4 separate regions of the Homo sapiens genome follow, and regions 2, 3 and 4 are each linked to region 1. Evidence: fine-mapped expression QTL. A gene starts in region 1. Each other region holds a variant in brackets. All regions are shown on one strand. Distances are between the middles of the regions. Region 1 holds the start of ATP13A4 (ATPase 13A4). Region 2 overlaps ATP13A4 (ATPase 13A4). Region 3 overlaps ATP13A4 (ATPase 13A4). Region 4 overlaps ATP13A4 (ATPase 13A4).

What was found. PIP is the estimated chance that this variant, and not a neighbour inherited with it, causes the effect. A credible set is the group of variants that fine-mapping cannot tell apart.
Region 2: its variant is the best candidate, but not a certain one, in a credible set for the expression of ATP13A4 in lung (TOPMed, PIP 0.60).
Region 3: its variant is the best candidate, but not a certain one, in a credible set for the expression of ATP13A4 in sun-exposed skin (GTEx, PIP 0.72).
Region 4: its variant is the best candidate, but not a certain one, in a credible set for the expression of ATP13A4 in unexposed skin (GTEx, PIP 0.63).

The regions. Positions count from the first base shown.
Region 1 is chr3:193,550,665-193,558,421 of GRCh38, forward strand. It overlaps ATP13A4 (ATPase 13A4), which reads right to left and starts at 4,231. Exons shown (of 30, transcript NM_032279.4): 1 at 4,076-4,231. The coding sequence starts at 4,135. It overlaps ATP13A4-AS1 (ATP13A4 antisense RNA 1), which reads left to right and starts at 2,549. Exons shown (of 2, transcript NR_121666.1): 1 at 2,549-2,623; 2 at 4,106-4,920.
Region 2 is chr3:193,409,736-193,417,492 of GRCh38, forward strand. ATP13A4 (ATPase 13A4) reads right to left here. Exons shown (of 30, transcript NM_032279.4): 26 at 4,844-5,015; 27 at 2,443-2,636; 28 at 1,247-1,335. Among named protein-coding and RNA genes, the nearest start is that of ATP13A5, 35 kb to the left of the region's middle. The variant C/A (reference allele first, on the strand shown) is at 3,100.
Region 3 is chr3:193,513,185-193,520,941 of GRCh38, forward strand. It overlaps ATP13A4 (ATPase 13A4), which reads right to left. Exons shown (of 30, transcript NM_032279.4): 2 at 1,514-1,687. Among named protein-coding and RNA genes, the nearest start is that of ATP13A4-AS1, 36 kb to the right of the region's middle. The variant C/T (reference allele first, on the strand shown) is at 2,953.
Region 4 is chr3:193,498,865-193,506,621 of GRCh38, forward strand. It overlaps ATP13A4 (ATPase 13A4), which reads right to left. Exons shown (of 30, transcript NM_032279.4): 3 at 3,629-3,775. Among named protein-coding and RNA genes, the nearest start is that of ATP13A4-AS1, 50 kb to the right of the region's middle. The variant T/G (reference allele first, on the strand shown) is at 3,994.

The DNA.
Region 1 (7,757 bases):
AGATCCTTATTTGCCATTTCAATATTTTTACAATAAACATATGTTACCTTTATAATCAGAAAAGAATTCAAAGGTTTTTTTATTTTTTGTCTTATTTGTTAAGGCCTAGAGAAAAATATCAGGGAACGTTACTTTTTAAAAGTCTCACTGGAACAAAACACTTCCCCAAAAGATTGATTGTGTTAAGGTGTAACTAAAGAGCAATGTTAGAATCAATTAAGCCATGATACCTTCGTTCAGCCATGGTATAAGGAAATGGTTCTAAATTCCTTCAAAATAGAAATACAAAACGTCAGGACTCAAAGAGATTTGTGCTCCCAGACATTCTCATACTCTCACTTTACAAATAAGGAAGCTAAAAAAGGTAGGTGTTTTCCCAACGTATGCACAAGGTAAGTAGAAGATAACCCAGCTCCTCTCCATTTATAAGTGGTCTCTACGGCCTATGAATAAAAGTACATATTCCTGGCCAGGTGCGGTGGCTCATGCCCATAATCCCAGCACTTTGGGAGGCTGAGGCAGGTGGATCACAAGGTCAAGAGATTAAGACCATCCTGGCCAACACGGTGAAACACCATCTCTTCTAAAAATACAAAAAATTAGCCAGGCATGGTGGCATGCAGCTGTAGTCCCAGGTACTCGGGAGGCTGAAGCAGGAGAAACACTTGAACCCAGGAGGCAGAGGTTGCAGTGAGCCGAGATCACGCCACTGCACTCCAGCCTGGCAACAGAGCAAGACTCCGTGTAACAAAAAGAAAAAAAAAAAGTACATATTCCTTTTGGTATAACTGAATGGCAAGAGATGACCTCATTTTTGTGGGATAGTATTTACTCAATTGGTTAATTGCTAAGCCCTTGGCTTTTCCTACCTTTATTTAGATGATAGCAGCTCACACCTCGCCAGAACTGTTTACTTCTCAAAACATGTTTATATGGATTATCTCCACTGATCTTCATGAGAACTCTGTGAGTCTGGTGGGGGTAAGAAGGACCAGTCCTATTTTACAGGTATAAAAACTGAGGCTAGAGCAGGCAAGCGGCTGGCCCAAGGCCGGTGAGAGCCAGGCCTCCCGTCCCGTCCCAGTGCTCTCCCAGAGTTTCCTCCTCGAAGCCTTTCTGAGGCAGTCATTTAGGTGAACCTTCGCTGAAGGCCACTTTCTCACCTTTCCTTCCTTCTCCCTCCAAAAGCTTCTTTCTACCTTTGGGTCCTGTCTCATTTCGCAGTTAAAGATATTATTTTCAGGTCACCTAGGGTTGCTCTTTAGTTCCTGTTTGCTTTTGGTTTGTTACTTGTTTATTTATTTATTTTTATCTATTTACTTATTTTTGAGACAGAGTCTTGCTCTGTTGCCAGGCTGGAGTGCCATGGCGCGATCTTGGCTCACTGCAACCTCTGCCTCCCAGGTTCACGCCATACTCCTGCCTCAGCCTCCCAAGTAGCTGGGACTACAGGTGCACGCCACCCTGCCTAGCTAATTTTTGTGTTTTTAGTAGAGATGGGGTTTCACCATGTTGGCCAGGATGGTCTCAATCTCTTGACTTGGTGATCCGCCCGCCTCGGCCTCCCAAAGTGCTGGGATTACAGGCACGAGCCACCATGCCCAGCCTGTTTTTGGTTTTTTAACTCCAAAATGGAAGATAATCCCAGGCATCTTTAGGCCTCAGAATATTCTTCTTTATTTGACATGAGGTCTAAACCCTAGCATGTTGTTTTCTCTTGAAATTTGAAGTAATTTCTACCACAAGAGAAATTACGTTTGCAAAGGTTCAAGTAAAGTATATTATAAAGCATGAAACTAAACACTTTGGTGTGACACATTTCTGGACTTGGAAGTCAGAGAAGACAGACTTATTTAAGCTACTCGAATTATCTAGAAGAAAAAAGAAACTCAAATTATCTATAACAGAACAGATGCTGGGGAATCTAAGAAGACTGGATGTTGATGTTCTCCTTAGCTTTGTTTTATGAAGGAAGGGAATGTGTTCTGTTAAGAGTGGAATGTTCTCCGGAAGAACTGGAAAAGGTATCAGTGGGCTATGTTCAGGTCCAGAGACAAAAGAGCTGTCAACTTAAACTAACCTGTGCGGTGCCTCAGCTCCTGGACTTACTGGTTGATGCAACCTTAGGGAAAGCCTGTGTGCATCAATTTCCTCATCTTTAAAGTTAGAATCACAGCATCTACCTCATAGGGTTGTGAGGAAAACTAAATTAGCTAGTGGCCAAGAAAATGCTGTGTATACTAAAAATCACTACAAAATATGTAGACTATATATATAGCTTGATAATTTTTAAAGTTTACTGCTCTGGGCAAGGGATGGAGGAGTGAGTTAAAAAGGAACACAGTGTCAGACACAGCAACAGGCAGGTGGCCAGGTTTCTGTAGGCAGAAGAGGATGGAGAGCTCAGGAGTGCATACTAATTGCTGCACCTCTGCTGAGACTACTGGCCAAATGGCTGCCTACCAGAAAACACAGTGTCCCTTTCCATATTAAAGGGCCTCTCCTAACTGGGCTTTCAGCTGCATACAAAACTACGTGGAGTTCTCCATGCATCTGATGGTGCCATTATGAAGATGAACTGTTAACTAAATTGCTTTGGTGGAATATGTATGCTAGGGAAGAGGTAACAGTTTCCCTACAACCATGAATGTCTTCTGGAAAATAAATGATTCTTATTGAGACTTGAAAGACAAATTGTCTGAGAGCAGAAAGGGGTTTACTGGAAAAGAGTGAGTGTATTTCTAAATGAGAGAGAAAAAAAATGTTTCAGAGGAAGGAGCCCCTGCCTTCTGGTGAAGAGTATTCAAGATGAAGATAAACTTTTCAACTTAATATCGAGAGTAATGAGATATTCACTTCCTAAAGAAAACTCTTTAAAGAAACAAAGATGATATCCAATGTGGGCTAGCAAGCCATTTCTGGTGACATTTGTGGAGGGGCTGAAGGCAATTCATTTGGCAGTCAAATCTGAATGAAGTAAAGGATATGGTTAAGAAAGGCACCTGAATTAATGTACATTTTACTTCTTTATAATTTTTTCAGCTTTGATAGCAGAAGGGATCTACTCTTGAAAGTCCAAAAAATGTTGTTGCTATAGGAACAGGTAAGCAGATTAGACTTGAAAGACCAGTTTAGGAACAAAGAATGTAATAGTCAGGGCTAAAGCAATTAACCAAGAAAACATTTTAAGTAAATATCTTTCAGGTTTGTTATTTACATATTAATTCCAGGAAGATTAAATGCTATTATGGAATGAGAGCGTCACATTTTAACATTTTAATTACATCATTACTGGCATAAAAGACTATGCTTACACAATTAGCAGAAAGATCTTATTAAACAGAAGTACATATTTCTAACTCTCTCTTGATTATATTGTAATTGAGAAATACAGTTTTAAATTCATCCTGAGCATGAAAGTCATCTTTGATTTTCCTATAGTTCTCAAGATAGAAGCACATCTAAAATCAAAGAGATACTGAACTACCGAAAGTTTTCTGTAACCAATCTCTATAATGAGGAAGCCACAAAAGTAAAATTCTAGAAGAAAACAGAAATGTGTGTAGGCTGATAATTGTTAATATTGCATGTCTTCCCTGTCCAACAGACTCGGTGAACAAGACATTTGAGAAGAGAAGGTCAAAGACCCAGCTGCACTTCTGCTTCACTGCTGAACTTCTGCTTCTTCCTATCAGGGAATACACTGCTCCTCACATTAGGGATTTCCTAAAATTGTTAGGTGTTTTGAACAGAACTGGCTATACCAATGAGGCTCAAACAAGAATCATAAAGTGCATGGTGCTTCTCTCCCTCTCTGTTTTCTTTAAAAAGAAAACATTCTTGACAAGATGAATACAATATTTTCATTCTAGCAAATTTCTGCTGTCAGAGGTTATATTTACAGGATAGAGAGATTTCTCAAACATGACCTTTTCTCGTGTAATACCAGAGTGAAATTTTAGAAAAGTCTGTGTGTGTGTGATGCGTGCGTGTGTGTGTGTGTGTGTGTGTGTGTGTGTGTGTCTCGCAGGCTGAGAAGTGGGATGGGAAGAAGGGAATGTGGCTAGAATCTTACCATCTCATTCTCTTCTCCTTCATTGAGCAGAGCGTGCTGGCCCTTCTCAAAGTGTCCCATGAAAAAGTTATTCCACACCTCCTCCCTGACCTTGTCGTGCAGACGCTTCCAGGATGAACTCCAACTCGCCGAGCCACCGCAGCTCCTCAGCTGACTAAAAGAGTTAATGATCCTCCAGGTTAAAACTCCTCCTTGAGCACACACCTTCTCTCAACAAATGACAATACTTGGCAAACTGAACTCCTCCCACGAGTCGCCCTCTGCTAGGAGGAATTGCTGGCTGCTCCCTGCTTATTGCATTCTCTCAGAGCAGCTGTCTCAAAGGAGGCTGCTCCCATGCCGATCTTTTTGTGCCCAACTTACAGGGAAAGAACTCATTGCCTGCCCAGTGCCTGCCAGCCTCAGACTTCTGACTGCAAATCCAACAGGACAATACAGAGTTGGCAGGACCCTTCTCAGGAGTGAGGAGCGGGTGCAAGAACTCCCAGGTCACTGCTTTATTCAGAGGACCTAAGGAATTGGGTTGAGCGGAAGCGCACAGAGCTGCAGATTTTCTTTGATGAATGAAAGCTTCAATCCACAGGTTTCTAATAGTACTCTCATTCATTTTGCTTACAAAAGGTACAGATTATCACTAATCCTCTTCAAAAGGTATTTGTAATCACATTTCCTTGTATATGCAAAAAAAATTCTATTTAAAGTGTATGTGAAATTAAGTTTACTTTTTTGAAACACATGTAGAAAAAGAACAAAGGTATCATCAAACTAGTCTATGTAGTCTCCTTTCACTAAAATATTGATGGTTCAACACTTAAGGAAGTCTAGAAATAAAATATTCAAATGACTATATGGCCAGACTCTTTTTTAATTTGTTTACACATTTATTCAATAAACAGTGCCTGAGCACAGGGACTACCTAAAAAAGTTAAGTCATATTTGCTACCCTCGTGTTGATGTAAGGATTCAAACATCCAAACAAATATGATAGAAAGTGGATTGTTATTATAAGAGATGGAACAGAAGTCTAAGAAAACTGTCAGAAGTCCCAATGTGGTGTAGAGAAACACACCCCTACCCTAGCTCTGGCAAAATACCTGTATTCCAGCTGCTTGTCTGCACTGGCCTTGCTGTGTGATCATTTAACTATAGGAACCGGCTCTTCTCATCTGGTACCGCCCGACAGGACTTTTGAGAGAATGGAATGAGATCATTGTGAAAGTACATTGTACAGCACTGATCAAGTGCTGTTAGGATTATTAAACTAAATGTGCATTTGAACAGTAGGTGTTAGGACATAGTGGCTAAGGGCATATACACTAAATTTGGAAGGCCTGAGTTCAAATTTGGACTGTACTAGGTGGTCGTTGTGCTACCTTGGGATATAACAAGTTATACAAACTCCATTCTCCTCTATTTCCTCACATGTAACATAAAGATGATGATAATAGAACCTACGTCCTAAAACAGACTTTTAAGAAAGAGTGCCTGGGAAATAATAGGTGTTCCACAAAAGATAGTTATTTTTACCTTCACCATGTCCACTGTCTGTCCCTCAAGCTACATTGGCAATGATATCTCCAACCTGACCCAAATAACCCTAATGTGACCAAGATCAATGTGTGCATGTGTGTGTGTGTATATGTTGTATGTGTAAAACCTTGAGCAAATAGTGAAGTATAGGATAAACATAAAAAGTAAGCTAAGTAAACCCATTGTAATAGTAATTACAAAATATATATGTACGTGTGTGTGTATGTGTGTGTGTGTGTGTATATATATATGTAGTTCTCTTGGTTTCAAAAATTTGCTAGCACAATTTAACCAAATAAATGAAAATAAAATTAACATTTTATCACAAGGTCAAAATATAAGGAGTAAAGGGTTTATGGGGGGGGTAATAAAAATGTTCTAGAACTACTGATGGCTTCAAAAATTTGTGAACATACTAAACCTCACTGAACTCTATACTTTAAAAGGGTGAATTTTATGAAATGTGAATTATATCTCAATGAAGAGATATAACAAATTTAAAAATCATACCTCAATAAAAAATTATACCTCAAAAAAACCTAACTGAACATTTAACAGCCTTACTAGGCAGTAATTATATATTTAGTACAGAAAAAAATATAAAACAAGCATATTCCAAATTTCATCTCAACTGATGGAGGTTGAGGAGTGTTAGTATGTGACGTGGTGAAACTATATCAGTGCTCCTGGGCAGGTGAGAAAGAAGTAATTCATTCTCCTGTTTATCACTGGCAATATTTGCAGTTTCCTTTTGGCTGGGTTCCTGAATGCACTTGGCAACTCTTGCACCGTTGTGGGATTGAGATGAGTGTGTAACTGATTAACAGCTAGAGGAGAAACTGTACACAAACTTACCCCATCAAATAAATCAGGTCATGCTGCTACAATATTTAAGCTAAACTTGAACAGGAAAATATGTAAGTCCTTAAGAACATTAAAAGCTTTTATAAAAATCAGATGTCCATGGAAAATTATTTTCCACAAACCTGGTTCAATAGAGCTGAGGACTCCAGTAGTGAGAGAGTTTCCTCAGGTTCCTTGGGAGTTCTATTGGTAAAACATCTAGATTTTATCGATGGCAACACTGCTTATGGACAGCACTCACCCTCATTTAGTGATTTTGGTCTACAAACATAACCATAACCAGAAACAGGGCTAGGTTGTGTGGGAAAGCAAAGAGAACATTTACAGAACACTTCCACATATGAGGCACAATTCTAAACAGTTTACACTCACTGTTGCACACAATCCTGACAAAAGCCTCTGTGGTTGATACTATTCTGGTCATTCTTATTTGACAGACAAGGAAACACAGGTGCAGACATTAAGTAATTTGCCTACATTCAAACCATTAGTAAGTGACAGAATGAGTATTCGGACCTAGGCAATGCAGCTCTCCCAATCCGTGATCCTAGTTACTGGACTAATACCTCTTCTACACATTTATTTGGCACATCCAAAGTGCTCTGCAAAGAGGTTTGCATTTATATGACCAGAAAAGCCTCTTTGTGAAGGAAGCATTTTGAGAAAGGCCTTGGAAAGAGCCAAAAATGCTTCAACAGGTGGAGATGCTGAGGCTCGGACAAAGAGTAAGGCCGCAGGAAAGAGCATTTGAAGCAAGGGAATCATCAGAGGAAGAAACACATGGTCATGTTCAGAGCAAGCCCATCAGCCTCACTGCAGCATGGGCTGCATGAAGGAAGAAGAGGGGAGTGACATGTGGCAGGGAAATATGGACCAACGCCATGCATGGAGGTCCTGAATGCCAGGTCTGAGTCTGAGCTTAGTGCACAGAGTGACAATAACATGGAAGGCAAACTGAACTCCATAAATATCCCTACTGTTCCTGATCAGCCTGTGCTCTCATATTATAGGAATCAGGTCCAAAGCGACTCAGTCCTTCTATGCAATACTGTATTTATGTAGACAGTTTTCTTGAACCTTCTAAGTTAAGTCTTCTATTTCTCTTAGGAACATTGTTTGAAAAGTTATTCTTGAATTCACCCTCCCTTTCCTTAATTGTGCCTGTTCAATATTTCTATTCTATACTCTACGTGCCTCACGGGTTGTGATGTGGCGTAGTAAGAATGGCAGATGAGGATTTGGTGTGGTCTGAATTCTAATCTTGACATTTTCCTGAAGGATTCCATTC
Region 2 (7,757 bases), 140 kb before region 1:
AAAGATATTAGTTAGTATGCCAAATGTCACTGTGGGTTTGTGCAGGTGTTGCTGGTTGGGAATGCACTGTATGCTCTAAGTGCTTGTTTATATTTAGGAGTCTGATACGCAATGATCAGTCAGTCATTCCTTTGTCATTTTTTGACATTCTTTGTGGAAGGCACTGGTAATACAAGAATGAATAAGATACACTGTTGGACCTCATGAGACTCATCTTTGAGATGGAGAGGCAACCAGATATACAAAGCACTCAATTAAAAGAGCTGTTTCTTTAGTCATCTCTTCAATATTGCATTTCTTGATCTAAAGATCATTTAGCCGTGATTAAATTGTAATAAAAGTAGGATAGGTTAAGGGGATCAAAATATGTTTTTCCCTGGCTTGGATATGTAAACTTTTGGTATCTTGTAGGTTTTTACAGCTGTATCAATATTATAAAATATAAGAGAGTTTATGAGGAAAAATATGGCTCTTGGAAAGTGAGTTTTACAGACATTAAGTATGAACACACAGAAAACATTTTTAAAGCCGTAAAAAAATACATAAATATATGATAACCAAAAAAAAAGCTATAGGCAAAACAGTTTTAAACAACTTCAAAAAAAGAAGCAATTAGGAAAAAATTCTCTCATATTTGAAAGAGAAAATATAGAAAAACATTTTCTCATAGGAGATCTTTTAAAATAAAAATATTTGGTTAGATGCAGTGGCTTAAGCCTGTAAGCCTAGCGCGTTGGGAGGCCAAGGCAGGAGGCTAGCTTGAGGCCAGGAGTTTGAGACCAGCCTGGGCAACATAGCAAGCCCTCATCTCTACAAAAATTTTTTTTTAAAAAATTAGCTGGGCATCATGGCACACTTCTGCAGTCCTAGCTACTCGGGAGGCTGAAGTGGGAGAATTGCTTGAGCTCAGAAATTTGAGGCTATAGTGAACTACGATTGCACCATGGCACTCCAGACTGGGCAACAAAGTGAGATCCTGTCTCTTAAATAATAAGAAGAAAACAAAATTAAAGTATTCAATACTTAAAGGCTGTCTTTAATCTCATGAAATCAAAACTGGGTAGAATTTTATTTCTTGACCAGTTTAAATAAAAAATATAGATAAATTTAGCATTTTTTTTAGCTCTGCCATCCCAAAAGAATAATTTGTGTCAAAAATCATGTCAATTGAAATTGTGATCTGCTTTTTAAAGTTAAACTGTTACATAACTGTAAAGCATCATCATATCCCAAAGATTAGACTTACATCCAAACGTCTATATAATTCTGGTATATCAGCAAATAGAATGAATAGACATACACCAAGCTGTATTATCAGCACAAGGACAAATATATCTGAGGAAATAAGAACACAAGGTATTATTTTGAGAAATCAGAGTGAAAAATGTCACATATATTGACGGATGTATTCTAGATTAACACTGATTTAATTTACTTGATTTCTACATCCAAATACTAGATGGAAAGTATTCATTTCTAAGCAATGGGTCTCACCTCTTTAATTTCTATGCATGTCCTTGAAGCAAGTGAAAATTTTCACATGCACATTTTAAGTTTCAATTAATAAAAGTAGTAGATATACATAGGGTAACATTGACAAAATACATGTTCAATAAATGCCTTGAAGACATCCAAGTATCTGAGTCACTTTAATGCAAATTATCTACCTCAAATCATTTTCTGGTAAAAAGGAAGCCTGTCAATAAACCAATTTTTAAATTGTTATCATATAGAGGTCAGTATTTAGCTGCTTCCTCATCCCAGGAAGAAGAAAAGCTAAATAATTTTCTCTGAACAAATAAATTTTTATGAAAATATTCATAAAGGAACTCAATTTGGGCTTTGAATTTTTTCAATAAGAAGAGTAGTGATGATATACAAATAAATGTCTTGAAGATTAAACAGGTCACTCATTTCTCATCCAAACATACCTTCCTACTCCAGAATGTAAGGAAGTAGGAGGGAGGTACTCTGGCCGAGAGCCTCCATAACCCTCTCTAGTCAGGTTCCTCCAGGCTGGACCCACTAGCAGCCTGCCACCACACAATGCCACCCTGACTATTGCCTTCATGGCAAGAGACAGGATCCACTTGAGTTCTGTTACGCTTCTCTCCACTGTTTCCAGGGTGAATTCTGACAAGTACTGACAAGTAGAGAAATAAATTGGTCTTTTCAATTTGGAGTGATCCCAAGAAAGACACCCAGAGGCAAACTTCTGGCGAAGGAAAGGGAGAAAGAAGCCCTAGTATTTAATGTAGCTTTGAAGGAAAGAGCAAAGAACCGTGAAAATGAGGCTGTACGATGTGTTTTGCAGAGTCCTAGAGTGGAAGTCAAGAGATGCTAGATAAGAATCAACTCTAAAGCTGTTCCCTAAGTGACCTGGACATGTCTGTTCCCCTCTCTGATGACTTCTCACCTCTGATGCAGTACAGTTCTACTCACAGTTTGTATAAGTTGGCTGTCTAAATGGTTTTCCTTTAGAGAACACAAGAGCCACAGTGATACAGTTGATTGTTCCCAAGAACCAGACTGTAGTGTTCTCAAAACTTGTGAAGGTGCTATTACTTTCCATTTTTTCTGGAGCAGTTGGAGACATGGTTAACTCTGAGATGCTTTCATTTTGTACTGTGCAGGCACTAAAAGGGAAAACCAAAGAAGCTAATGAAGTAAGATTGCAAGGCTTTATGGAGCATTTGTATCCAGAAGATTCCATACCAAACAGTGTCCAGAGCAGGCACTCAATGCTTCTACAATTGCCTGTGCTTTGGAAAACACACACACACACACACACACACACACACACACACACACACACACACTGAAAAATAGGGGAAAAAATCAACAAGCACAGATAGACCCGTATTTTGGATACATTGAGAGAGAGAGAGAGAGACAGAGAGAGAGATTCAGCCAATTATGTATTCAACAAATTATGCACATTCATTAAGGCTATATGGGAAAGAGATTGGTAAATCATGATTCCTCCCTCAAGTGGCTTAATATCTCTGATAATTTGGCCAAGTGTGGTGGCTTACACCTGTAATCCCTAGGAGGCCGAGGTGGTTCACTTGAGGCCAGAAGTTTGAGACCAGCCTGGCC[C/A]ACATGGTGAAACACCATCTCTACTAAAAATACAAAAAAATTAGCTGCACATGGCAGCATGTGCCTATAATCTCAGCTACTGGGGAGGCTGAGGCAGGATAATTGCTTGAATCCAAAGGCAGAGGTTGCAGTGAGCCTAGAACACACCACTGCACTCCACCCTGGGCAACAGAGAGAGACTCCATCTCTATAACAGCAACAACGACAACTGTTGCAGGAAGTCAGGGACTTTGAACAGAGGGACTGGCTGGAGCTCTGGCAGAGGAACATAAATTGTGAAGATTTCATTTTAATATGGACATTTATCAGTTCCCAAAATTAATACTTTTATAATTTCCTATGCCTGTCTTTACTGCAATATCTGAACATAAACTGTGAAAATTTCATGGACATTTATCAGTTCCCAAATAATACTCTTATAATTTCTTATGCCTGTCTTACTTTAGTCTCTTAATCCTGTTATCTTCGTAAGCTGAGAATGTACGTCACCTCAGGACCACTATTGTACAAATTGATTGTAAAACATGTGTGTTTGAACAATATGAAATCAGTGCACCTTGAAAAAGAACAGAATAACAGCAATTTTAGGGAACAAGGGAAGACAACCATAAGGGCTGACTGCCTACAGGGTCAGGCAGAATAGAGCCATATTTTTCTTCTTGCAGAGAGCCTATAAATGGACATGCAAGTAGGGAAGAGACCGTTGAATTCTTTTCCTAGCAAGGAATATTAATAGTTAATATCCTGGGGGGAAGGAATGCATTCCTGGAGGGAGGTCAATAAATGGCCGCTCTGGGAGTGTCTGTCTTATGTGGTTGAGATAAGGACTGAAATACACCCTGATCTCCTGCAGTACCCTCAGGCTTATTAGGATGGGGGAAAAAACCCCACCCTGGTGAATTTGAGGTCAGACTGGTTCTCTGCTCTTGAACCCTGTTTTCTGTTGCTTAAGATGTTTATCAAGACAATATATGCACAGCTGAACATAGACCTTTATCAGGAGCTTTTGATTTCACCCTTTGCCTTGTGATCTTTGCTTTGCCCTTTGCCTTGTGATCTTTATTGGCCTCAGAAGCATGTGATCTTTGTGACCTACTCCCTGTTCATACACCCCCTCCCCTTTTGGAGTCCTTAATAAAAACCTGCTGTTTTTGCAGCTCAGATGGGCATCACGGTCCTACCGATATGTGATGTCACCACGGAGGCCCAACTGCAAAATTCCTCTCTTTGTACTCTTTCTCTTTATTTCTCAGCCAGCAGACACTTAGGGAAATTAGAACCTATGTTGAAATATTGGGGGCAGGTTCCCCCGATAAACAACAACAACAAATCTCTGATAATTTGTAAGTGAGTTGAATATATAACTTAACTAACAAAGATAGTTTTGAAGGTGAAAAGGAAAGATGTTAATAATTTCACTGGGACATCACTTAATTTAAAGTGGGCTACTTAAACTGGGGCTGCTCAGGCAAATTATAATCCATGGTCACCCTAGATATCAAAGATGGTCATAGATCATTATCATATAAGACAGACAAAGATAAGTGCTAATGAATGAATGATACATTCATTAGCATTAAATCATGCTACAGAGAAGAAATAATCACTGAAAATTTGCCCAAGGGACTTTAAAAAGCCAAAACCTTTGGCAGAATGAAGACCCATGTGCCTCCCATCATATTGGCCAGAGGATGTTTGATAGAAATTAGAATGTGAGAAGCAGAAGCTGAGACTATACTCATACCTGTGTATCTCCACGGAATACCAAGGCTGCCTCTGAACCAGGATGAAGCCTGCAATATGCATGGCCAGGCTGAGAAGAATGTTGAAAATCACAGAGAGTAGCAGAGGTGGAGAGATCAGCCGTCCTGCAGGTCTGAAAGGCACCAGCTTAGGGTAGGCACCATTCAGATTCACTATAAAATAAATTCGAATTTTATATTTATGAGAGCAGGAAAATGTATTCTTGATCAGAAGAATGGCATAAGTTCATTGGCCCATACATTTGAGGAAATGGACAAACTGGAGTACATCACAAACTGAGGGAATAAAACAATTAATGGACTCAAATTCAAGTCATGTAAAGAATTCTTAAAAGAGCAGACAAAGCCACAAGATGTCACTTTTGGCCTTATAAATAGGGAAAAACTATTAAATTACAGAGAAGGGAGGGATGAAATATACTCTCTCATATATTGCTTGTGGGAAAATAAATTGATGCAAACCTTCTGCAGGGCAATTTGGCAATAAATGTGAAGAGACTGAAAAATGTTCATAACTTTCGACATAGTTATTCTACTTTTGGAAATTTATCCTAAGCTAAAAAAGTTAATCAGAGATGTGAAAAAATATTCATTATGGCATCATTTACAATAAGTTATGGTACATCTATACAATGGAACAACATGTAGTCACTAAACAGCAATGCTTTAAAACACTTAATGACAAATAATAGGTGATATCCAGCAAAATGGTGAAGTAGGCAGCTCCAAGTTCCCACATCTCCACAGAAATATCAAAATACAAGCAGAAACTGTCAGAAATCTGAAAATCTGAAAAACAGAAAAGTATACTGCAACCAAGTGAACACTGAATCAAGAAAAAGACAACTTTAGGATCACAGGAAAGTTTTGTGGCATTTCTACTTGCACTTGATCCACCCCCTACTCAGCTTAGTGACAATCCTGAAGATAGCCTGCATTCCCAGAGGGAGACCCTGGTCCCTGGTTACAAAAGGAGCATAGCAGGCCTTATTTACAAATTGTTACATATGTCTGTCCCAACCTGTCTGGGAACTACCTGAAGGATTGATGCAGGCACTCATCTCTGTTCCACCTAACACAGAACTCACTCTGGGCAGAAAAGCAGTGCACATTGCTTGAAAACATTATTAGGCTAACAAATGCAGTTGCCTAGGGCAAAAAAATTACAGTTGATACATAAAATAACCATCTAAAGCCTGGAAGAAAAGCTAAGGAAATTTCCTTGGAGGAATTAGGGCAGTCTAAAGCATCTGTGTATGCTGGGAAATGTAGAATGCTATGTAAATGCCCAGGGCAAAAGCTATGTGCATCCCAGGGCATAGTACATGCTCAGTAAAGACCAGAGAAAACCCAAAGCCTTCAGCTCTGGATTATCTCCAGACTCAGTGTAAGCCTGGCAAAGTGTTGAATAAGTACTCCAGCACAGAAATAATCTGTAAGGACTGGAGAAGGTTTTGTTTGTTTGTTTGTTTGTTTTTTCACTCCTAGAGGTCAAGCAAATCTCTATCAAAACATTAGCTGAACAAAAGCTGAAGGAACAGGGACATATGCGATCTCACATGAAAACTAGTACAGTCTTTCCAAAAAAAGCTTTGGAAAGTCACTAAACAAATGGACTATTACAGCCTTCAACAAAGAGTGAAACAAAAAATTCAAACCCTAAAATAGGAGAAGAATCTAATTTTCAGAGTTAGAGCATTATAATATTCAACAGAGCAAAATAAATGGACAGAATTTGTCCCTGAGGAAGCACAGATATTAGACTTATTAGGTAAAGACTTTAAAACAACTATCTTAAATATGCTGAAATAACTAAGGGAAACCACGGGCAAAGAACTAAAGGAAATTAGGAAAACAATGTATGATCAAAATGAGAATGTCAGTAAAAAGATAAAAATTATAAAAAGGAGTCAAAAGAAATTCTGAAGCTGAAAAGTACTGTAAGTTAAGTGAAAACAGCAAACTTGCAAACTTCAGCAGACTTGAGCAGGCAGTTTGCTGCTCAACAGCAAACTTGAGCAGGCAGAAGAAAGAATCAGTGAACTTGAAGGTAGGATAGTTGAAAATATCCAACCTGAGGAACAGAAAAAAAAATGATAAACAAAAATGAACAGAGCCTAAAGGGCATGTATAACACAAACAAGCAGACCAACATGTACGTTGTGGGAGTATCGGAAGGAGAGAAGAGAAAGAGACAAAAAGAATAAGAAATAATGGCAGAAAACTTCCCAAATTTGATGAAAGGCATAAATCTGCATATCCAAGAAGTACAAGTAATTACAATAGGTCAAACCCAATGAGATTCACATCAAGACATCATATTTGAGCTATTAAAAAACAAAACAAAACAAAGACAAAGAATCTTGAAAGCAGTGAGGGATAAGTGACACATCACCTATAAGGGATCTTCAGTAAGATTAGCAGCCAATTTCTCATCAGAAACCATGGAAGCCAGAAGTCAAGGGATAACATTTAAGATGCTGAAAGAAAAAGAAAAAAACTATTGACTAAGAATTGTATACCTGGCAAAACTGTCCTTCAAAATCGAGGGAGAAATTAAGACATCCCAGATAAACAGAAGCTGAAAGAGTTTGTTATCAGTAACCCTACCCTAAAAGAAATGCTAAAGGGCTCAGATTGAAATGAAAGAATACAAGATAGCTACTCAAACACTTACGTAGAAATAATGATGTCTAGTAAAGGTAACTATATCAGCTATCAGCAAATATAAATGCTGATATTTGTGTATTTTTGGTTTGCAATTTCACTTTATATATCCATGTTATTTAGTACACAATGGAAAAAGATGTAATTTGTAACATCAACAATATAAAAGGGGAGATAACGCTGCAAAGGAGCAGTTGTTTTCATGCTATTAAAGTGAAGGTGTTAATT
Region 3 (7,757 bases), 37 kb before region 1:
TGGAGCAAGTCAACAAAGACCAACTTCCTCCAGTTCTCAGTTTCATTGGAGTTTAGCCTCACCTCTGTTAGATTTCTTTTTGGCCAGTTATAAGGCTGATTGCTATCCTTCTCTCTTACTGCATTAAATAGAATATGTATCTAGAGAGATTGTAATATATAAAAGGAAGCTAAACTCCCAACAGAGTTTGATTTATCAACAATTTGGTTGTCATTCGGGGCCATGGGCTGATGCATTCTTATAAACACTCAGTAAAAGTCAACTAGAAGAGAGTCCTCTAGGAGACTGTCCTTCCACTCTCTTTAATAGAAACATCCACTTCAGCCTGTCAGCCACCACATAGTAACAGAATCGCTACCACATGCAGGAACTGGGGGTGCAGCAATTAACACGTTAGAAATGCTCACTTCCTTTGAGAAGCTGACAGTCCCGCAGGGATGATGCACATTGTCCGAGTGCCATGAGTGCTGCAAGGAATTGGTATGGAAGGAAATACAGGGAAACTCACCCAAAGCCAGAGGCTTTTATTAACAGAGAGAGGCAATGGCCTCAAGGGCAAGATGGCTGCACTTTTTACCCTAGTGTATCTGCAGAATGTGACATGCTCTCATCAATCAGCTGGGACAGACAGCATCCTCCTCAGAGTGATGCTCCCCACCCCTTCCCTTCTTTTCCTCAGGAGTCACTCCAGTGCAGGGAGTGGGATATGTCAGGAATCGAGAGGAACGGTCAGTGTGAACTTAGTAGCCTATAGCCTGACTTGACTACTTCACATTTCCTGTTATTTTTAGCTATTAACATGTGGTTGTTCCCTGCTCTAGCATTCACGAAACTCACAACTTTAAAAGAAATATCTTGTGAAATCGCTCTTCTTGATCAAACCTCACCATCCACAATTTTTAATTTAACTTGTATTTTAAGATCGGGGAACATGTGCAGGTTTGTTATATGAGTAAACTTGCTTCATGGGGGTTTGTTGTATAGATTATTTTGTTACCCATGTATTAAGCTTAGTACCCATTAATTGTTTTCCCTGATCCTCTCCCTCTTCCCAGCCTCCACCTTCTGACAGACCCCCGTATGTGTTGTTCCCTTCTATGTGTCCATGTGTTATCATTTAGCTCCCACTTATAAGTGACAACATGCGGTATTTGATTTTCTGTTCCTGCGTTAGTTTGCTAAGGATAATGGCTTCAGCTCCATCCATGTCCTGAAAAGGACATGATTTCGTTCTTTATTATGGCTGCAGAGTATTCCGTGGTGTACATGTACCACATTTTATTTATCCAGTCTATCACTGATGGGCATTTAGGTTTGTTCCATGTCTTTGCTATTGACCATACACAAATTAGTGAAATCCTGCTAGATGCAAGGCTGTGATGAAACCTAAGGAACCAAAGACTGGAGCCTCCACCTGCTATCTGTCTTGTGCACATCTCCCCCCAGCCATCCCGTAACACATTGTCCAGAAACAAAAGGGGGGCACCAGCGACATAACCAGGTACACACTTACCGTTGTCCTCAGCAACACAGTGTCTGCTTCTTGCAAGGAACATGGGACACAATGTGCCCATACGTGCCATGCTGGTCTCCAGTAAAACACCAAGGGGAGGATTCCAAATGAGAAGATGGATCCGGCAAGGCAGAGACTTTTCCGGCAGCCTTGAGTCCGATAGCCAAATATCTCCTGGGACAGAATCAAAATGATACCAAATATTGGTTAAGCACAATAAACAATAAATGAACAAATACTGATTTTAGTGATGGAAATGGGGGCAGAGTGAAGGAGTTGAGGAGGGTGAGGAGAGGGCAGGGTGAGGCATGGAGAGAGTGGAGAGGAAATCTTGACAAAGAAGTGTAAGACATGATCCCAGGAAGCAAGGAAGTCACAGTCTAACTAGGAAATCAGTTTCTATCATTTGAGCACCTAGATACCCTGTGCCAAGCACTGTGCTAGGTGTTTAGATGTGCTGTCTTGTTTAACTCTCCCAATCATGCCTATCCCTGTGTTTTCCCTGAAGTGAGATAATCATCCTCATTTCATACATGGTGGGACTGAGCTTAGAGTGGCAGAATGGGATGATGTGCCCAAGGCCGCACAGCTAGAATGTCCCACTGCTAAGATTCCAATCCAGGTCTGTCAGCTGGCGAGCTGACAGCAGCACCAAGAGATTCCCTTGGCTGGGATCAGCAGACACAGGAGAGGGAGAGAAAAGAACCAGGCCTTGAAATCTGAGTCAGGATTGGGTGAAAGTATTTGACCATAAGAGGATTAACAAGTAAATGCCAGCTTGCCCTTGGGAGTTTGGGGTAGAGTTGTGCCTTCCCATGTTCCTTCCTCATTCATCAACAAACAATTTTATGTCAAGAGGAAAACACCATAGGGACTATTTGGTTTACTTCATCTCATTCTACTGAGCACCAATGCGTCATGAGAGGATATTATTAGACCCCAGAGGATACATACAAGACAAGATAAGAGTCTCACCTCTAATAAATATATAATCTAGACAAACGTCTTCCTTCCAAGGAAATCCTGAGATAGAATAGAAAACCATCCCTGAAGTTTATGGTCTTAGTCCCACAACTTTATCCCACAAAGTCATGGGTATACTTTACACTGGTTATGACAGCTAAAATTGAGAGGTAGTAGAGTGTCCTGGTTAAAAGCACATTCTCCAGACCAAGACTCTTTGGGTTCAGAGACTAGCTCTGCCACTTACTGGGCGTGTGATTTTTCAGTACATTATTTAACCTCTTTATTCCTCAGTTTGTCTTCCATAAAATGGGATAGTAATAGCACCCACATGACAGGGTTGTTGCCCTATGTAAGCATTTACTACGGCTGTTGCTGCTATTACTTGATCACATGTCTCTGAAATAGACCTGAAATTCTATCCACCAGTTTATTGGCAGTTAGGTACAAGAATTCCTAGTGTCAACAGTTCTGCT[C/T]TTGCTAGAATTGTCTCTTAGGATAACAAGGGAGTTGGAACATAAAACTTTAAATCTATCAACTTCTTTATCTCACCTGATAAAGATTACATTGCCAGGAAAGGTTCTGTGATGCTTGGCTGAAGGTTGCTTTTGTGTGTAAACATTAGATTCCTTTCTACTATTAGCAACACATACAGGTGCCGAATGGCTTTCTTAGGCATTGTCCAAATTTGGCATAACTGATAAAATGTTCTCATTAACTCAGAAATACAATCTCTTAACTAATTTTGCAAAGTAGAATGTAGATTCTGACATGAATACTCTTCTGCTCCAAGCTCAAGCCATTGCTCTCCAGATGCCAAGCCTAGAATGGCTCTGTCCCCTCAACACACTGGCAGCAATGCTCTCTTAATCCCACACAGAGCAGTGCCCTAGTCTTAATTTCCTTACTTGTCCTGAGTCCAGCTACCATTCTTTCCCATGTGCTTTTTCTATGTTTCAACACTTTGGCATAGATCAATTTGTACCTTCCGACTCAGCCATTTTTTCATCTTTTTAAAATATTATATTTAAAAGTTTCCTTATATTGCCAGTCAGTTGAGCCCCCATGTAATATGCCTGAGTTACTCGGTTCTATAGCAAAAACCTCTCTGTTACTATGCATTCTTTTTTGGGCTACGCAGTGAGGGCTCTCTACAGTTTCCAAAGTGTCTTTGTGTTCATTGCCAACATAAAGTAAACAAAAATTATTATCTTAATTCCCCATTAAGAAAACTAAAGTTCAAAGTTACTATAATACCTTTAATAGTAATAATAGTGATTATTAACAACTAATTATTGATAACAGTGCTAGCAGCTAACACTTATTGGGCACTTAATAGCCTTTCACTAAGCACATGATACATATTCTCCCATTTAGTTGAAAAAGATTAAATTAGTTTCCCAAGCCACAAAGCTCATAACTAACTCAAAACTGGGCCTCCAGTCTAGACCTCTGCAGCACATGGAAGATGATGTGGGCTGGCCATTTCTACTCCTATGCTCTTCTTTATTCTTTTATTTCAGTTCAATTTAACAAATGTTTGTTACATGTCCACCAAATGGCAGGCATGTGCTAGACGCAGAGATAAATAAGACAATATCTCCAGTCTCAAGGAGCTCATTAGTTTAGTAGAGAAGAGAGTCACACAAACAGCTAAGATTAAACAAGGTTAGAGCAATAAAGGGTTACATGGAGAGATAACCATATAAATTGTCACCTGAATGGGGTGCTATTAATAATAACACTGGGACAACAGGAGTAGGTGGGTGTGAAGCGAATGCTTCACTGTAATTTCCAGGCACTACAACCAACTGTTTTGTTTTATTTTATTTTATTTTGAGACGGAGTTTCGCTCTGTCGCCCAGGCTGGAGTACAGTGGCGCGATCTCGGCTCACTGCAAGCTCCGCCTCCCGGGTTCACGCCATTCTCCTGCCTCAGCCTCCCGAGTAGCTGGGACTACAGGCGCCCGCCACCACGCCCGGCTAATTTTTTTTGTATTTTTTTAGTAGAGACGGGGTTTCACCGTGTTGGCCAGGATGGTCTCATCTCCTGACCTCGTGATCTGCCCGCCTCAGCCTCCCAAAGTGCTGGGAGCCACCACGCCCGGCCTACAACCGACTGTTTTAAATGAATGCATTTCAATGGATTTACCTCGCTGCTCATCCAATCTGGACACCTATTAAAATCCTTGCCTCTGTACAGTTTCTTCTTTGCCACTCTTAAATACTAAAGAACATTTTTCTAAGTTTCTTCCAAGTTAATTTGACTTATAGATTCAGGTGAAAAATTCTCAACATGAATGACCTAATCTAGAAATCTTAAACTGGAGGCTCAAAAGGAATGACCTACAGTCTCATTTCTTTTTTACCTGTTAGGTATTTCTTAAAACTTTAAATTTGTCCCCCAGTTATTTTCACATAAAAATTAAGATTTCTACTTTTTCCTTAAAATAAATTAAAATGGTGACAATATTGTTCCCACATTCTTGCACTGCAGTAATCAGTTGGAGAGCAAAAAAAACCATGTGTAATATAACCCAGAAAATAACCCAGATGCCATCAGTGAGTGAGATGTACTGTGGTGTGTCCACACAATGAGATTTAATACAGCACTTCAAATGTATGAGCTCCAGCAACACACATCAATATGGATGACTCTTAGTAATAGAATAGGAAGTGAAGAAAGTCAGTGCAAAGGATTGTAATAGCATCATAACCTTTTTATAAAGTTAAAAACTGCTAGCATTTCAATTATTTGGGGGATATATCTAGATAAAAGAAAACCATATAGGAAGGAAAGCAAGGGAATGATGAACACATGATTTAGTACAGTGGCTGCCTCTGTTGGGGAAAGGCAGAGGAATGAGAGGCCATACTGTTACATGCAGATTATTGTCAAAGTCCTAGCTTTTGTTTGTGGTGATGGGTTCAGCACATTATTATAAAGAACTAATAAAGTAGCTAACCAAATTAATGCAACACAACATGGGCAAATAATATGAGTGTGTCACGAACCAAAGATTATGGACAATCTAATTGTGAGTACCTCAAGTCTTAGGAGAAAAAAGAACCAGCCAGAGCAAGTACCATATGCCCCCTCTAAATGAGCAGGTGCCCACTTCTTTTCTGTGGTTCCTGCCTTGCTTTCTTTTTTCCCCAACACTGAGGCTATATGTTAGGTTCCATCTCACATCTCATGCCAGACCTGCTCATTGGAGCTACAGTCTCACCCTGTAAACTAGTGGTTCTCAACCAAGGGAGAGTTTGTCTCCCAGGGTACATTTGGCAATGTCTGGAGATATTTTTGGGTCACCCAACTTCTGGCATCTGGTGCTCAGAGGCAGGAATGCTTCTAAGCACCCCACAATGCAGAGGACATTCTCCTACCTCCACCCTCCACAAGAAAAAAATTATCTGGTCCAAAATAGTGCCAAGATTGATAAAACCTGCTTTAGGCATTTTAGTTTCCTCCCACCTAAACTAGGCAGATCTTTAGGTCCTAGTGCCTAGGATGACATCTTCAGCACCCAAAGAACTAGAAAATTTTGATTTTGAAACCCATGGTAAAAGAGGATTGACACTTAATACTAAATGACCAACAAAGTAGGTAATGGTTGCAATGCAGCCCAACAAATCATTTCACAGATAAGGAAACTGAGGTACTAAGACAGAAAGCAGATTGCCCATGTGATCTACCACCTGCCTTCCTCTCCAACTCCATCTTGGACCACTTTCCCTCTATATCACTCTGTACCAGCCACGAGGACTCTTTCCATTTTGTTGAATTCACCCAGCCCTTTCCTGCCTCATGGTCTTCCCATGGCTTGCTATTTCTCATTCTTTCAGTCTCCTTTAAATATTTGCTTTTCAGAGAGGTCTCAGCCAACCATCCTATATAATTAAGCCCTTAATCTCATGTGCCCTTTATAATACTTTTGTAGAATTTTCACAATTTGCAATTTGTAATTTTTTTTTTTTTTTTTTTTTTTTTTTTTTTAGACAGAATCTTGCTCTGACTCTGTCACCCAGGCTGGAGTGCAGTGGCGCAATCTCGGCTCACTGCAGCCTCTACCTCCTGCGTTCCAGTGATTCTCCTGCCTCAGCCTCCTGAGTAGCTGGGATTACAGGCGCCCGTCACTGTGCCCAGCTAATTTTTGTATTTTTAGTACAGACGAGGTTTCACCATGTTGGCCAGGCTGGTCTCGAACTCCCGACCTCAGGTGATCCAGCCGCCTCAGGCTCCAAAAGTGCTGGGATTACAGGCGTGAACCACCGCACCTGGCCTGCAATTTCTATTTTTTGCTTGCTTTTCTGTTTCCTCCTTTCTGCTCCCCTACAACGAGGCTTTAATTTATGTCATAGTAGGATCAATTCAAGTTTTTTCCTCCCACGTTGTTTACCCAGCATCACATACATTATCTGCATGTAGTGGGCACTCAATAAATACTTGCTGAATCAATCAATATATAAATGAGTGGCTATATTAAAGGAAAGAATAAAGGAAGGAGACAAAGGTGGGAAAGGGAGGGAGAGAGGGATGAAGGGCAAGAGAGAAGGAGGGAAGGGAAGTTAATAAACCCGTACTCTCCTTGTTCCTAGCCCAACAAATTTAACTGTATTATCTCCCTGGACACTAAAAATAAAATCAGTCCACTGAGGGGAGGAAGGAGAAAACATAGCAACTCCCAGATGCTGCTCTGTGCCTTTGGTCATTAGGAAATGTTAAACTAGTCACATCATTTGCATTACATCAAGTTAATCTCTAAGTCTAGGTTTCTTGAATGAGTGCTAGGATTTTTGCTTTTTCTTTCTCTTTTTAGCCTGTCTCCAAGAGTTGAAAAGATGCTAAAGGTAAGACTGAGTTTTACAAACTCTCTGTCTTCAACAGAGCCAAACCAAGGGCCTGCCCTGGAAGGGACAAACTGGTTAGATATCTACTCTCCAGTCTCCTGCTCTAGTCCAAAAAGTGTGTTCACAATCACTTTAGTGTGAATTGTGCTGAAGTCCCAGTCTTGTATACTACTTTGCAAAAAAAAATTATTATTATTAAAAATAAAAAATAATAATCTCCAACAATGACTACTGGCATGCAGCTGAGTCCCATTTTCCATTAACAATGTTTACGTCCATTCAGTGGTTACAGGAGTGGCCCTTGAGGGGATCCTGAGGAACAAAATGAACTGGCCACAGCTGGCAGATAGTTGGGATGATAATCAAATTCTCTTCCCAGCTTTGGAATGTCACTTCTCTCTCATTCCCAGCTTTGGAATGTCACCTCTCT
Region 4 (7,757 bases), 52 kb before region 1:
TCATTATAACCATTAGATACATTTTAAAACTGGAAAGACCATATAGCTGGCACAAAATAAGTGCTCAATACATTTTTTTATTAAATAAATGAATGAAAGCTTTGTAAAACCGTGTCAACTAGAAATGCAGTTTAAATCCCTTAGCTCTAAGGTCTAGGTTACCAAAAATGAATGCTAACTCTATGCAATAGGTGTATGTACAGGTACACATGTGCACGTGTGCAAACACACACACAGACATTCAAAGTTACCAAATAGCATGTAAAATGCTGTATTTTTTTATTTTACAGAATGGATTTATTTCAGCAAGGTTGATTGAAACATAATGCATTTAAAAAGTATATCTTATTGCCGATTTAGAGTGAATTTCCAGTAGGAATGACACACAATCTCTCTCTAATTTGCAGATTTCACAATCTGCAAAGGAAATATTTGTAAATGACAGGCTCTAGGGTGTGTTAGCCATCATGACACATGTTGAAATCTCAAGCATCTTGCCTCACAATTTACTTTTCTCTTCAGTATTCTTTGCAATTTTGCAAATAGAGCAGGATTGTAATCACAGCTACTATTTTTTGGGCATGTTAGGACTTTTCACACGTTATGTTTAGTCTTTTCCATCATCCTGTGGTAGGGCAGATATTATTTTCCTCTTCACTTTGCGCCTGAAGTTCATTTTGCTTAAGTAACTTCCCAGGAATTTGAACTCCAGCCCATCTGGCTCCAGAGTTCAATCTCTCAAAGGATATCATATTCAAGCTAGTCCCAAAGGAAAATCTGAAAATCCATTGACTTCAGGATTCAAGCTGTATAAAGTGATGGCTATCTACTTATTAATTATATAAATGCAAAAATCTGTGTTAGAAATATTTTAAAGGACAAATTGTGGTTCCAATGTGAGGCCCCTGATCAGTTCGAGAACCTCTTATCAAGAGGCAGAAACCACACACTGAGGTTGAAAAATGTATAAAACATAATAGACATGAAACATCTGTAGATGAACGCAGCAATAATGAGAAATAAAGAGGCTACTGATAAGTTTTACCTCAGGCCAGAAAATAGAAAATTCCATTATCTTCTGACAATTTCTTAAGCCATTTCTCACAGAGTGAGAAGAATGGCTCCATCCTAGACCTTTTGAGCATATTTGAGATTCCCGCAGGAGAAAACATCTCTGCCAGGAGTTTATCTGCTTCCCCCATCACTCTCAGAGCCTCTGGAAGCTGGTAAGAGGATGTTAAGTACAATATTTGCAAGAGATGAGGTTTATTTGCCTATTTCCTGGAAATTCAGACCAGGAAACAGCAATTAGGAAACCAAGTATCTGCTGCGGGGTGAATTTCATCTTTCTGCTCAGGAATAAGGAAGATTTCCTCTCCCCGGGCTTTCTGCTTGTAATTTCTTGTTAGAACATGTTATAAGAGCATCCTGTTTAACAAGTTAAGCACTGGGTGTTAGCTTTGCCTGTAATCCTGCAAGATGGTCCTTAGCATCTCCTCTTAGCCTGTTTCCAAACCTGACATAGTTCTTTGCTGTAGTCTTCAGACTTCCTTTAAACCAGCGATCTCCAACCTTTTTTGGCACCAAGGACCGGTTTTGTGGAAGAGAATTTTTTCACGAATCTTGGGGATGCGGTGATGGTTTCGGATCATCAGGCAATCATTAGATTCTCATAAGGAGCACCGTAACCTAGATCCCTCACATGCGCAGTTCACAATATTAAGGATTTCACTCCTATGAGAATCTCATGCTGCTGCTGACCTGACAGGAGGCAGAACTCAGGAGGTAATGCTCGCCGGCTTGCCAGCAGCTCACCTCCTGCTGTGTGGCCTGGTTCCTAACAGGCCATGGACAGGGCACCAATCGGTGGCCTGGGGATTGGGGACCCCTCCTTTAAATGCCCCTAAATGGTTACCCTCTTGGTAATGCTGTTATTGTCATCAAGGCTGAGCCCATGACAGCTCCTCTGACTTTAAGGAAAGTTTTGTTACTAGCATAGCTCATTGAAGTTCACAAATGACCTTAATATCCATCGTCTCATTGTGTGTTCATAACAGCCCTGAGAAAGGCAAAGAAGGGGTATTACTTTTATTTTATAAATAAGAAACTCAAGACCAGAGAGGCAGTAACTAACCAAACTGCCTATGCCGTAGCTGGTAAATGAAGATAGTACACCTATCACAACTTTCCATTTCAAGACCTCTGCCCCTCCTACAATTCTGTGTGTTGACTTGGCCATTTCTTCATTTATCTGTCCACTTATTTATTTGATGCTACTAAAGATGCTAGAATTTCAGAGCAATAAAACTATGAGAACATAGGCTATCTGGGAAGCTTATTTCTCCAGGTGAATGGACATCTAACAGATTAGGGAAACTATTATTTGGAGGTACTTGACCTCCTTTGTTTTTGTTTATTTGGGCAGCTAAGACAGCTGAGTGGGTGGGGTGCAGTGGCACACCCCTATAATCCCAGCACTTTGGGAGGCTGAGGTTGGTGGATCACCTGAGGTCAGGAGTTCAAGACCAGCCTGGCCAACATGGTGAAATTCCGTCTCTACTGAAAACACAAAAATTAGCTGGGTGTGGTAGCAGGTGCCTGTATTCCCAGCTACTTTGGAGGCTGAGGCAGGAGAATTGCTTGAACCCGGGAGGTGGAGGTTGCAGTGAGCCAAGACAGCGCCATTGCACTCCACCCTGGGCAACAAGAGTGAAACTCCATTTAAAAAAAAAAAAAAAAAGACAACTGGGTGATAACAATTGACAATAGGAAAATTGCTCATAATTTACTTTATTACTTTAAATAACTGAACTTGAGCTCATAAAACTAATTTAAACAGCTGACCACACATACATAAATGTAAGACAAAACATTCTGTCTTATAAAATGTTTTTAATATGAATGTTAACTAGTCATAATCCAAGCAGAACTAATTTAATAGGGTGAAGAGGGAGCAACCCAAATACATTTGAATGACAAGAATTCAAATAAGGTCATTTTTGTAGGCATAAGCAAACCTCCTGGGATATTCCTGGGTGATTACTTTTACTATAAGATTAACCCTGTTACATAGATTGTAATATGGGGAACGATACTATTAGAGCTAATATGTAAGAGCTGGGCTGGGCGGTACATGCCTGCAATCCCAGCTACTAGGGAGGCTGAGGCAGGAGGATCACTTGAGCCCAGGAGTTTGAGGCTGTAGTGTATTATAATCATGCACCTGTGAATAGCCACTGCACTCCAGCCTGGGCAACATAGTGAGATCCTACCTCTAACAAAAGGAAAAGAAAATAGAGCGAGTATGTATTGAGCATCTGCTATATACCTGGAACTACTTTAATCTTTGTATTTCTAAATTTATTGAATTTTATCAATTAATATTAGAAATAGACATTATTATCATCATTTTGTAGATGAGAAAACAGGCTCAGCAGAGTTAAGATCAATGGTTGCGCTATTTAGAAGGAGCAAGCTGAGATTTGGACTGTCTGGCTCCAAAGTTCACATTTTAAATATACACTATCAAATGAGGATTGGCACAGTAGAGGAGCTACATTTAACTATATACTTGAGGGGAAAAAGATTAAATCTCTCTGACATCAGCAGTAGCCATAAGTTTACTTACCTTTAGGTCTGGCTTTCTTATGGCTCTATTTATGATATACTCCTCATCTGTCATGAGAGGGTGGTCAGGAGTGAGACCAAATGCGCTGTTTAATGCTGACAGGTAGATCCATATTACCTTTTTCCAAGAGTAAATTTGGAATTCATCCTGAGGAGATAGACATCAAAACCCCCAAGAAGTTAAGAGAGGTCAGCAGGCTACAATTCAACCTGAGAAACATCATTTTAATATAATTCTGTAAGTGTTTGGCGTTAGTGAATATTCTAGACAGAACGGTTTGTCTCTGAAAGATGATGGATCTAGAACCTTGAGGGAAAAAGACCTGTCATCACTGACTGAGGAATCTGGATATGAAGATGAGGCAC[T/G]GACACATAACAAAGCTTGAGAATCAGGAGGCTCATTCGCAGGTAAGAACTAGTTCACTGCATCACCTTTCAACCACCTTTCAGCCCATGACCTGATGACCATCCCCATCTTTCAAGGCTTAACTCAAATTCCACCTCCTACAGAACAGCCTCATTAACACCCTTCCACCGGGGCGGGGCAGGGGGGGGAACTATCACTTTGTTAACTCCAAAAAAATGTTAAGTGTCCCTCTCTTGTGCTCTTAATCACTTTTTCTAGTCCTTCTAGACTACCTGGAATGCAGGGATCACGTTTTATTGTTCCTTATCTCCCATTCATGTGGAGCACTGAGACCTGCTCAGTCAGAGTCTGAAGAATGGAAGAAAAAAACTGAATCCATGGACTGAACCTGCCCAAGGTAATTGCCAAGATGTTAGCACAGGTGGGGTTGAAGAAGGCACCTTATTGCATGACCCTAATTAAAATTGCTTCCATTTGCAGTTCACTGATTACTTCACACAGAGTAAAATTAGAGGGAGAAGCACAGGATTGAGAAACAGATACCACAATGGTCCCTTAGAGACCTATTTGACAGTGGTTATTGTCTGAATAGGGAAATACTAAACATAAAACCCACTCAGATGACTGACAAACCTCAGGATTCAAGAAGTATAACAGAAAAAGTCAAACGTGGGAAAAATTTGATGCTTGGGAAATGTAGGTCAGAGCTGGAAATTGTCTCCACCACCACACCCATTTTTGCTATGAAGAGTGCCCTAGCTGACTCTGCAAAAGGCAGAGAGGGGAAGATACAATCATTGTAGCTAATCTCTTATATTCATCCTCCTAAGAGAAGACCGTCTGTATGCCTTTGCTCCTGCTGCTTCCTTAGCCTGTAGTACACATTCTTCTCTCTTCTCCTTAAGTCTTTACATGGCTGGATTCTACCATCCTTCAGGGTCCAGCTCAGAGTTTATGTCCTGAGAACCTCCCTAATTACTCTGGGTGATCTCTCCTCTAAATCATCAGGATACTCAAGATTCCTACCACATTTTACCCTTTGCCTATCCACCTTACCACTTCTCTTGGACTATGGGTAGGAATTGTGTATGATGCATGTCTGCACTTCAGCCAGGCTTAGCACAGGTTCTGTGTGCATGTGTGTGTGTGTGTGTGTGTGTGTGAGAGAGAGAGAGAGAGAGAGAAAGAGAGATGAAGAAGGGAAGGAAGCCAACAAGAGGGGAAAATAACCTTAATAGAAATTGGAATATTAATTAATTAATCAATTTTAAAAGCCAATGTAATTGGCTGTTACACTGTGGATTTAAAAAAAAAGGTGACTAAATCAATTCAAATCAAATTGTATGGAGTTAAGAATGATGAGCCTAAGAATGGTGGAAGGGAGCTAAATTTTCAATGACTAAGTCACCGATCTGATGATAGACATGGTCTAGGTATGGTAGAGTAGGCAACCAACTCTCTTGAACAAACCTTGACACAGTTCAGCATTATATAGCTTTGCTTTTGACTTTATCAAAGCAGTTTTTAAGTAAGAACTTTCCATTTCTAATAACAGTTAATATTTATTTCACACTTATTATGTTCTAAGCACATAATGCTACATATGTATTATTTCATTTAATGTCAAAAACACTATGGAATTGTTACAGTTAATTATTCTCCCATTTAGTTGGCAAGGAAAGAAAGACATACTTGGTAACTATTAGAGCAGGCACTTAACAGTCACCTCCCCACTCCTGCTTGCCTCCTCCAGAGTCCCCTCTAACCTTCCACTTTATTCTACATTTTGCTAAAAAATATAATTTGATTGGACTGCCATTTTTATGTCGAGCCTGAACTGGAACTTCTAAAAAACATAGTTTCAATGAAAAATTTGGTAAGAAAATGTATAATTTGTAGGTAAATAGGAACACAAATTATAAAAGAGCCATCAAGACCAGAGACCTCTTGCCACCAAGTAGGGACAATTAGGAAGACAGCAACTATTAATCGTCTCCAGTGAATTAAAATAATATTAACAACTTTCATATGTTTACCTAGCAGTTTCATAATTTTCATATGATTACATAGCAGTTTGTAGAAATTTTGTTATGTTATCTTATTTTAGGCTTACAATTCTCCAGTGTTGGTATTATAATTATCTCCATTTTGCAGATGAGAAAACTAACCACCAGCAAGGCTAAGAATTGCTCAAGCCAGTCTGAAACTGGTAGTAGGAATAAAACTGAGACCTGAGTCCAGATCTTTCCATTCCAAATCTTGGTCCCTTCCTCTTTATTTCAACAAGTTGTCCCATGGTGTCTATGGCTTGCATGTAAAAATCACCTTGAATTCTGTACCAACTGACAAATAGTATCCAGTTTCTCACAATCTCTGCTCTCCTGACAGCATAGAATCTAATTCCTGAAATCAAGCTGTCACCCTCTGGCCCTGTGTGACAGCAGACAGACCTCCAGACTGTAATGCCTAAAGAGGGAAAAGCAAAGTGTCCAGGTTCTCAAAGGCCATATTAATCCAGTGCACCAACTAACTGTATGCCTTAGTCTAGGTGTGTATTAAAAACTGACATTCATCTATACACCTATCTCTTCTTATAGCTCATAATATTATCAAATCAAAGGTACTTGGATATATTTGCCTTTAAGCTCATTTCCTAACATCCCCATTTACTCCCAATCCCAATACTCATAATTCTGTATGATACAAAGTAGAATAAAATAATTCTACTAATTATGTATCATACATAATTCTGTATGATACAAAGTAGAAAAAATAAAAGATAGGACAGCTAGATGACCCTTTTGCTTAGAGTAGGGGAGTGACACTGACTTCTCTCTTGTATACTACCCTGTTGAGGACTCTGTCAAATCACCCAGCTTTTTAAGGAAAAAAAGCAAAGAAATGGAAGGAAAGTACACCAGTGTGAAGTGGTCACTTCAGGCAAAATCATTGACTTCTCAGTTTTCATTTTGGGGTTGTCCAATATGGCAAGAGCACAGGCTTGAGGCCTGAACTCAAATCCCAGCTCTAAACTGTCTTACAACTGTCTGAAGCTAATTTTCTTTATTTAGAAAATGGAAGTAATACCAAATTTCATGGATGTTTGAAGGATTAAATGAAGTATACATAATGTGTCTGATCTAAGGTTTGGCCCATAGCAGGGAGGCAACAAATGGTATGGCTCTGTGCCTCATTTTTCATAGCATGTTGTTTCTGAGTTCTTTCTGTAAGTAGGAACTTATTCTCCCTTTGAGGAAACTCTAAAAGTCTCTCAATTTTTCCTTTTTGGAAAAGCAGCATCTTTGCCTGTAAATGGCTTCTTCTACTTTAGTCTGTTTCCCAGCTCTCTTCAAAGCAGGTAATGATTTGTAAAATACTTAAATGTACCAGAGGAGCTACCATTTTAAATAATTGGTTTATAATGCAAATAATGCAAAGTGCTTGCCTGGCAAATCTGGACTTTTTACACCTCAGGTCTCATTGAGAAGGCTTTACCTCCTCTTTATCAAAAATATTAACCGGATCAGTCCTTGAACTCTAAAAAAATAGGTTTTACAAAAATTCAAGAGTGCATTTCAAAAGTCGAATGTATACAAAGGACCAGTGTTTGACCTGGACTGAAAAACAGAGGGAGAAACCTGGACATTTTTTATTTCCTGTGGTTTTGTACTTTCTGACCCTGGAAATGCCAGATAAACTTTTAGACTTGAATGAAGCAAGCTATCTCGTGATATGGTTTGGCGGTGTCCCCATCCAAATCTCC